3 linked regions of the Homo sapiens genome follow. The protein of the gene in region 3 interacts with the protein of the main gene of each other region in a biochemical or structural test. Each region holds a gene or a part of one and is shown on either strand. Other genes may lie near its edges. The genes, in order: H4C7, KANSL1 and KAT8.

The links.
Region 1: of the proteins of KAT8 (region 3) and H4C7, one has a biochemical effect on the other in vitro, tested with the Homo sapiens proteins (one study listed by BioGRID).
Region 2: the proteins of KAT8 (region 3) and KANSL1 form a complex in vitro, tested with the Homo sapiens proteins (one study listed by BioGRID).

The regions. Positions count from the first base shown.
Region 1 is NC_000006.12:26,246,099-26,248,401, reverse strand, and holds H4C7 (histone H4-like protein type G), read left to right. Parts: upstream 1-1,405; 5' UTR 1,406-1,424; coding exon 1,425-1,721; 3' UTR 1,722-1,791; downstream 1,792-2,303. UniProt on the Homo sapiens protein: Core component of nucleosome. Nucleosomes wrap and compact DNA into chromatin, limiting DNA accessibility to the cellular machineries which require DNA as a template.
Region 2 is NC_000017.11:46,172,855-46,176,511, reverse strand, and holds part of KANSL1 (KAT8 regulatory NSL complex subunit 1), read left to right. Parts: intron 1-3,657. UniProt on the Homo sapiens protein: Non-catalytic component of the NSL histone acetyltransferase complex, a multiprotein complex that mediates histone H4 acetylation at 'Lys-5'- and 'Lys-8' (H4K5ac and H4K8ac) at transcription start sites and promotes transcription initiation.
Region 3 is NC_000016.10:31,124,036-31,127,692, forward strand, and holds part of KAT8 (histone acetyltransferase KAT8), read left to right. Parts: intron 1-2,999; coding exon 3,000-3,053; intron 3,054-3,153; coding exon 3,154-3,318; intron 3,319-3,657.

The sequences.
Region 1 (2,303 bases), on a different chromosome or scaffold from region 3:
AGTTTCCTGTTGTATCAACCCCAGAAGACAGTCACCCCCTGTACCTTCTGTCCTCCACATGAGAACAGGGCATGGAGCCTCTGGCAATTTACATTATCTTTTTTCTGGGCAATTCTTCATTGCTTAATTGTATAGTGCTTAATATAAGTGAAAGCACACTGAATGTATTGGTGTTGCAAAGGCAATGTTTTAAAATCCTTCGGTGTGCTTTACCTCTGCATTATTATTTTGTCTGTAAAAAAAGGCTGTGGCAATAAGAATTCGTTTACCAACTGGCCGGTGAGGTGGCTCACGCCTGTAATCCCAGCACTTTGGGAGGCCAAGGCGGGCGGATCACCTGAGGGCAGGAGTTGGAGACCAGCCTGGCCAACGTGAAATCTGGTCTCTACTAAAATACAAAAATGAGCCGGGAGTGGTGGCACATACCTGTAATTCCAGCTACTTGGGAGGCCGAGGTAGGAGAATAGCTTGAACCCAGAAGGTGGAGGTTGCAGTGGGCAGAGATTGCGCCATTGCACTCCAGCCTGGGCAACAAGAGCGAAACTCCGTATTTTAAAAAAAAATCATTTACTAACTATATGCCAGTGTTTTGCTTAAAGTAACTCAATTATTAACAAGTATTTACCCTTTTTACAGATAGGGCCATTGAAACTCAGATTAACATGTCTAATATCGGTGAGAGAGCAGTCACTCACAGATTCGAAACCAAAAACCAGGCTACTTCTCTTTAGCTGGGCGGCTTGGCAATATGATTAGGAATTCTTTTATGTCTTGGAATTTGGGCTTGTTTCAACTTCAGCATGGTAAATGCTCTAATATACAGGGAAGGAGTAAATCTTTTTTTTTTCTTTTTTGAGACGGGCTTCGCCCTTGCCCAGGCTAGAGTGCAGTGACGTGATCTCGGCTCACTGCAGGCTCCACCCCACGGGGTTCATGCCATTCTTCTGCCTCAGCCTCCTGCATAGCTGGGACTACAGGCGCCCGCCACCTCGCCCTGCTAATTTTTTGTATTTTTATTAGAGACAGGGTTTCACCGTGTTAGCCAGGATGGTCTCGATCTCCTGAGCTCGTGATCCGCCCGCCTCGGCCTCCAAAAGTGCTGGGATTACAGGCGTGAGCCACCGCGCCCGGCCAGGAGTAAATCTTTAAACACATACAGACATCAAAAATCGAGATACTTTCCTCTAGGTACATGTTTGACACTTTCGTTTAGAGATCCTTATTCTCTAAATGCCAGCAAATCTCCCTACTACAAGAGAATTTCTTATGTCTTGTTATTACTAGAAGTAGATGAGCGGGGACTGAATACGTTTTCCCGCCTTTCCTGGTCTTTCAGTTTTCAAAAAGGTCTACTCTACCGTTATATAAAAGGCTGCGGAAAGCGAGTAATCGTTTTGTTTAGAGATAGTTCTGACTTGTTTATCATGTCTGTTCGGGGCAAGGCCGGAAAAGGCCTTGGGAAAGGCGGTGCCAAGTGCCATCGCAAGGTACTGAGCGATAATATTCAGGGCATTACCAAGTGCACTATCCGGCGCTTGGCCCGGCATGGCGGTGTCAAGCGCATCTTGGGCCTCATTTATGAGGAGACCCGCCGGGTGTTCAAGGTGTTCCTGGAAAATGTGATCTGGTACGCCGTGACCAACACGGAGCACGCCAAGCGCAAGACGGTCACCGCCATGGCCGTGGTCTACGTGCTCAAACGCCAGGGAAGAACCCTGTAAGGCTTTGGCGGTTAAGTGAGGCCAGGCCTTTCCTTGCAATATCGTTAATGGCCCTTTTCAGGGCCGCGTACGTTTTCTTCCGAAGGGCTCACGTTTGACATTGTGGAAACTTAACTAACGCACTCAGCAATATTGTGTGTTTTATTGCTGTAGGTGCCCAAAAGCTGTTAGGTGTATAATGCTGTAAAGTATAAATTTACGCCAAGGCTGACATACAACATGGAATACAGGTGGTAAGTTAATCGTGTGTTCAGAGATTAGAAATCTGGTGGGCTGGCTGAGGACATCAACGGCTACATTGTCACTTAAAAGCTCTCAAAATGTGGTTATGGTAGTGTGTTTTTCTCCTTACTGTTAGGATTACCCTCCGTAATTAAAATTGTAGTTTTAGTGCCAAGATAACCCGACTTTTATATTCTGCTTAATAAGCAATTTCAATAACCAGAGAATACACAATAATTAGCACAAACTTGCCAGGTGCCGTTCTGACAAATGTGTCTGCAGTGGAGGGACTGGCCCCCTTGCTAGTTCAATGATCTAATTTAGCAGCACTAAAAGAAGTTTACCTGTTTCGTGCCTTTG
Region 2 (3,657 bases), on a different chromosome or scaffold from region 3:
ACCATGTTGACCAGGCTGGTCTTGAACTCCTGACCTCAGGTGATACGCCTGCCTCGGCCTCCCAAAATGCTGGGATTACAGGCGTGAGCCACTGTGCCCAGCTGGAGTAGATGGGATTTAAGCCGGCATTTTTTCTTAAAGTTGTAAGCTTTAAAGAATTGAATAATCTCAGAATAACTTTGAGAAGTTTACTACTTAAGCACCTTCTGTGATGTGATGTTAATTATGACCCTCTTTTTCATTTGTGCTGGAGTGAGCCTGGGTTTTCCTAAGTTTTATGTAAGTCATAAAGCATATTTGTGCCCTTGCTTGGGTCCTCAGAGGGAAGCTGTTTCCTGCCCTTGCTAAGTCTTACTGTAGTGCTGTCAGGCAGTAGGGTACAATTACTCTTCACATGTTGTATTAATCATCTGGCACTGATAATATGCCTCCTTGCATTGCTCATATCAACTACATATTGACATTCAAAAGGGGAGGAGATTGAATTGATGGGAATTATCTGGTAGTGATTTTCGTTTGTCCATGGGAAAAACCCTTTGCATATTATAAAAGTGACTCAAAATATTTTTAACAACTATATTGGTCCAGCTGTCAACTGGTCTATAACACAATGTTTAATAACAGGAATTAGTACTGTCAACTGGTCTGTAACACAATGTTTAATAATATATTAGTAATTAGTATTATATTTAAAGTTAGAAATGGGAAAAGACAACATAGAATAATTTGTGCCACACAGAATGCCATATGCCAGAAAGCCCACAGGAGAAAACTACATAAGCCCTGAAAATCTAGTTCATAAAGAGTGTTGGTTAAAATACAACCCTGGAACAAGAAACTTTTGGTGTTAATAATTATATGAGGCCAGGCACAGTGGATCACACCTGTAATCCTAGCACTTTGGGATGCTGAGGCAAGCGGATCACCTGAGGTCAGGAGTTTGAGACCAGCTTGGCCAACGTGGTGAAACTCCATCTCCATTAAAAATACAAAAATTATCTGGGCATGGTGACACATGCCTGAAGTCCCAGCTACTCGGGAGGCTGAAGCAGGAGAATCACTCCAACACAGGAGGCGGAGGTTGCAGTGAGCCGAGATCACGCCACTGCACTCCAGCCTGGGCGACAGAGCGAGACTACATCTCAGAAACACACACACACACACACACACACACACACACACACACACACACACACACACAGCAATAAGACAGATTCGACCCATATGTATATTGGTGCTTTTATGAATAATGTTTTCTCAGTCATTTATTTGAGTATTTTTATGTTAATGATTCAAATTGTCATACTATAAAGAAGCTTACTGTGGTCCTGTAGGGCCTACCATCCTGTGTTGGTATTGCTCCAAAGATAAGCATTTTTGATTAAATTGGAGATTGCCCTCATTTGGGGCAGGGAGGGGGGTGCTTAGTCCAGTGATTTCACAAGCATTTTGGTCTCAGGACCCTTTTTTAACTCTTAAAATTTGTTGAGAACAGCAAATAAATTGTTTTTCTTATAAACTTTGAGAAATTTAAAAAATATTTAATAAGTAATTCAGGCTGGGCATGGCGGCTTATGCCTATAATCCCAGGAGTTTGGAAGGCTGAAGCTGGGAGTTTGATAGCAGCCTGGGCAACAAAATGAAATTCCATCTCTACAAAAATTCAAAAAATTAGCCGGGCATGGTGGCACACACCTATAGTCCCAGCTACTAGGAGGCTGATGCAGGAGGATCACTTGAGCCCAGGAGGTTGAGGCTTCAGTGAGCCATGATTGTGCCGCTGCACTCTAGCTTGGGTGACAGAGCTAGACCCTGTTTCAAAATAACAGCAACAAATAAATGATTTGTCTTGCACTTAAACTTTTTACCCATGCATGATTTCCTGACATTCACTGGACATTTTATCGTTCACTGGGTTATGCAGATCTTCCAAATGTTACACATTACATTATATGCAATCAAAAATTCACGTTCATTAATATCGTCACAAGTCTGTTAAATCAGAAATGGCTTTTAAAATATTCAGAAAGTCCGAATGTGGCAGCTTAGGCCTGTAATCCCAGCACTTTGGAAGGCCGAGGTGGGCGGATCATGAGGTCAGGAGATTGTGACCATCCTGGCCAACATGGTGAAACCCTGTCTCTACTAAAAATACAAAAATTAGCCAGGCGTGGTGGCACGTGCCTGTAGTCCCAGCTACACGGGAGGCTGAGGCAGGAGAATCACTTGAACCCAGGAGGCAGAGGTTACAGTGAGCTGAGATCATACCACTGCACTCCAGCGTGGCGACAGAGCAAGACTCTGTTAAACACACACACACACATCCACACCCACCAAATAAAATATTGGGAAAATGTTTAAGTTCATGATTGTTGATACAAGTTTTCAAAAACACTAATCTTTGCCTAAAAAATTCAGATTTTATTATTGGCAGCAAATATCGTCAGTGGTCTTCCTTGAAGTGACAGGTTCACTTTGTTCATTTGCAAGGAAATGTCTGCTAGTGAAGCAGGTTTCAAATAATGTTTGTCAGTAGTTCTGCCAAGTAAAAATCGTGTTCCATGAACAAAGCTCTAGTTCATTTTGCAACTCAGTTGTACTGTGCTTTTTCCTGAGAATTCATAAAGCAGCAGAGTGCTTTATGCATACTTTCCCTTTCATCACAAAGAATATTTTTAAAAAATGCACTAAAGGCTCAAGATAATTCATAATTTTTGCTGTTCATCAAGGACATCTTAAGTGGAACTCCCTTAAAAAAAGAAAAACTGAGTGGAGAGTATAATGACTATTAGTATAGTTTGGTGCCTCTTCCTTGATTTGTGCTAATAATGTACCAGCAGTTTTGTTCACCTTTGTTTTTGTACTCTGATTGCAAATGTCAACACAGTGTAAAAGGCAGATAATATTCTAGTATTGCTATGAAAATACCTTTGATTTCACGAACCTCCAAAATAGCCTGTGAGATCCCCAGAAGTCCAGAGACCACACTTTAAAGAACAACTGGCTTAGTTCTTTACGTATGTTTCCTTTGGCTCCCAGACCACATAGATCAAGGGGGATCAAACAGAGGCAAATGACTGAGATTTTTAGCTTGGTTACTAAATAAAAGCAGTGTCATTACTTAAGGTAATGAAACAGGATGCGGAATAGTGTGCTGGAAGGAGAAAGTGAATTCTGAGCTTCAGGGGGCTTGAGGAACATAGAGGTTATAGGAATCTTGATTAGTGCAGCTCAGAAGTTTTTCTTATGGTTAAGAAACCTCACCATACTAGTGGTTGTTGAGAGAGAAGAGGGCAGAAGGGACCTTGTGCAGCACCAGCATTTAAGGGTCCAGGAGGAAGAGAAGAGGATGATAGTACAAGGACATCAGGAAAGAATTAGAAGAAGGTCGGTATTGTCCAGTGCTTCAGAGAAGTCAGATAGAATGGGGACTGAGGTTTGACCATTGGATTTGATAATAAGATTACTGGTCACCTTTGCCAGAGCAGTAGGGGGTGAAATCCAGATTATGGAAGAGTGAAGAGTGCAGAGACAGTTATTTATACTATTCTTAGAGAAGTTTTGGGGTAAAGGGAAAGAGAGATATTTGGGCAATTAAGTATGAGAGAGAGGCTGTACTGAGGGCAGAAGATACTTGAGTAAATTCCTAGGCTGAGA
Region 3 (3,657 bases):
TTCTAAATAAATTGCAACAATTAAGAAAAGTAGTGTTTTTGTAGTTCTTTATTGCATTTGCAGAAGAGTACTGTATTTTGTGAGAATTGGGAAATGTGTTTTAAAGAGATGTGTGAGGAGGAAAATCTTTCTTCCTCATCTTTACAGTGGTTAGGTTCAGAATTGGACAGACCAGGGGCCCATGCCCAACTCTGCTGAGTACCAGTTCTGTGACCTTGGGCAAGTGACCTCACCTCTTTGTGCCTCAGTTTTCTCTCATACAACAGGGACAATGAGCACTCTTATTTCAAAGGCTCATTGTGAGGAACAAAATGAAATAATGTCGGCTGGGTGCAGTGGCTCATGCCTGTAATCCCAGCACTCTGGGAAGCTGAGATGATTGGATCATTTGAGGTCAGGAGTTCGAGATCAGCCTGGCCAATATGGTGAAAGCCCGTCTCTACTAAAAATACAAAAAGAGGCCAGGCGCAGGCAGACCACGAGGTCAGGAGTTGGAGGCCAGCATGGCCAACATGGTGAAACCCTGTCTTTACTAAAGATACAAAAAATTAGCTGGGTGTGATGGTGCACACCTGTAATCCCAGCTACTTGGGAGGCTGGGGCAGGAGAATCGCTTGAACCCAGGAGGCGAGGTTGCAGTGACGTGAGATTTTGCCATTGCACTCCAGCCTGGGCGACAGGGCGAGGCTCCATTTCAAAAAAAAAAAAAAAAAAAAGGCTATGGCTCATGCCTGTAATCCCAGCACTTTGAGAGGCCAAGGTGGGTGGATCATCTGAAGGTCAGAAGTTCAAGACCAGCCTGGCCAACATGGTGAAACCCCATCTCTACCAAAAATACAAAAAATTAGCCGGGCTTGCTGGTGGGCGCCTGTAATCCCAGCTGCTTGGGACACTGAGGTGGGAAGATCGCTTGAACTCAGGAGGTGGAGGTTGTAGTGAGCCAAGATTGCACCATTGCTCCAGCCTGGGCAACAAGAGCAAAATTTCATCTCAAAAAACAAAATAAATTAGCTGGGAATGGTAGCAGGCACATGTAGTCTCAGCCACTTGGGAGGCTGACGTAGGAGAATCACTTAAGCCCAGAAGGCAGAGGTTGTGGTGAGCTGAGATCTCCCCACTGCACTCCAGCCTGGGCGACAGAGTGAGAGTCTATCTCAGAAGAAAAAAAAAAAAACATGTCTGTGCCGTGCTTGCCACTTGGAATAAATGGCAGCTCACTAGTCCCCGAGGGTAAGGGACCTCACCTTGCCCTGCCTGTTTACTACTCTGTAAAATTGAAATAACGCAGCTGGGTGCAGTGGCTCACGCCTGTAATCTCAGCACTTTGGGAGTGCGAGGCTGGTTGATCACCTGAGGTCAGGAGTTTGAGAACAGCCTGGCCAACATGGCGAAACTCCATTGCTACTAAACATACAAAAATTACCTGGATGTGGCGGCATGTGCCTGTAGTCCCAGCTACTTGGGAGGCTGAGGCAGGAGAATTGCTTGAACCTGGGAGGCGGAGGTTGCAGTGAGCCGAGATGGTGCCACTGTACTCCAGCCTGAGCAACAGAGTGAGACTCCGTCTCAAAAAAAAAAAAAAAAAAAAAAGAAATAACACTCTATGTAAGGGTTACTGAAAGGATTAAATGAGGCCATATAAACATATAGGCACAGTGCTTTGTGGAGGGGGTTCTGGGTAAAGCACTGGCTCCTTCCTCCCTTCTCAGCTACAGGGCAGGGCCTTGTCTGCCCTGGTGTAGGTCATGGACCGTCTTGGGTCCCCCTTCCATTGTCAGGCTGTACTGGGTTCCTCCCACAGGGTCTGGCCTAGGAGCAGGATGTGTTGTGAGTGTGGTGTGACTCTTAGTCTCTGCTTTCTAAGGACTTGAAAAATAGAGGAACCCAGGTGGGCATACTTGGACAGTGTTGCCCTGTTGACCACTTCTCGCTGAACTTGGGAAGGAGGGAATGTTTTCTGGATGGGAAGAATCCAGTCAGGCCTCCTGGAGGGGGTGGTAAGAATCTCAAGCCTTGAAGGATGGGAAAGAGCACAATAACAACAGTGACAAAGGATAGATCACAAAGCATCATGGACTCACCTGACTCATGCTCCGTGCCAGGCTGAGGAAGTGTTTTCTGCTGGCAGTGAGAGAAGGAAGGGCATTCTCCAGGTAGAAGGAGCTGTTTGTGCAGAAGCATGAAGGCCGCTAAAAGGGGGCTGCTGATAGCAATGAGGAGGCTGGGGCTGGAGGCAGGGAGTCTGAGGCGGCCTAGTAAATTGTCCAGACCTGAGATGGGGCCATGACTACCTGGAGCAGGACAGAGAGGAGAATTCCAGAGAGGGCCCAATTCCAGAGATGTCAGAAGTAGACTCGACATCCACTGTATTAGGACTTGGCCAGGCCGAGGGAGAGAGAGTAGTCTGAGGCAAGCCTAGTTATGGGTCTTGGACACTGGGACCAAGGGTGATGTTCCCAGTAAAATGAGCAACCCAGGAGGAGGCGCAGGTTTGCAGGGAGGAGTGATGAGGTCCTTTCTGCACATCTTGAGTCCGCTGTCCCTGTGGGAGGGACCTCTGGGGCAGTCGCATGGGCAGGCAGGGTCTGGTCCTCAGGAAAGGGGTCCAGGAACATCGGGGAGGTAGTAACAGTTCTTACGCTGGGCCTGGAAGGCAAATCTGTTATTTCATTTGAGTCTCACAACTTTGGCAGAGCTGGATTGCCCCCCATCGTGCAGCTGAAGCCCCATCCTGATCCTAACCCTGTTCATCTGGCAAAAGGTCCAAACTTGGACATCAGGGATGTCTGGGATATCGGGGGTGGGGCGGGTGGGTGTGAGAGGAGTCTGGACCAGCCAGCTTCAGAACCAAGTCAGATAGGTTAGCTATTGGTGTGGTTATTATTGCCATCCAGGAATGAGGTCTGGTAGACGGCAGGGAAGCCTTGTGGGTCCTGACGGGAGGGACAGCCTGGTCACCACTTCTGTTCACCTCTGCCCACTTTTCTTTCCTGGCCCAGACTTATGCAGAGATGGACCCCACCACAGCAGCCTTGGAGAAGGAGCATGAGGCGGTAAGTGGGGCTGGGAAGCTGCCTGCAGGTCCCCCGTCTCCCCTTGCCGAGGAGCCCCTGCTGAGCCGTGCACTGTGCCTCACTCCCACCCTGCCTGCAGATCACCAAGGTGAAGTATGTGGACAAGATCCACATCGGGAACTACGAAATTGATGCCTGGTATTTCTCACCATTCCCCGAAGACTATGGGAAACAGCCCAAGCTCTGGCTCTGCGAGTACTGCCTCAAGTACATGAAATATGAGAAGAGCTACCGCTTCCACTTGGTGAGGCTGGGCCGGCCGGGCCGAGCTGGGCAGGGGCCCGGTGAGAGGCAGAGGCAGGCATGGAGACTGAGGGCGGCTGCGCCGGCAGCTCCAGGGAGGAGACAGGCCCAAAGGAGCGAGTACAGGGAAGAGCTGCTGGGGGTCAGGAGGCCTGGATTCCAGGCCTGGCTTTGCTGTTGCTGGCAGGGTGACCTTGCCAACTTCAGACCTCAGCTCCTCTTCTCTGGAATGGGGACAGTAACTCACCCCCTTCAGGTCTTTTGCCAAGGCCAGCTCCATCCCAGGAAGCACACATAGCCCCTGGCAGTGGGACCTTAAGTGTGGATGAAATTGGGGGCT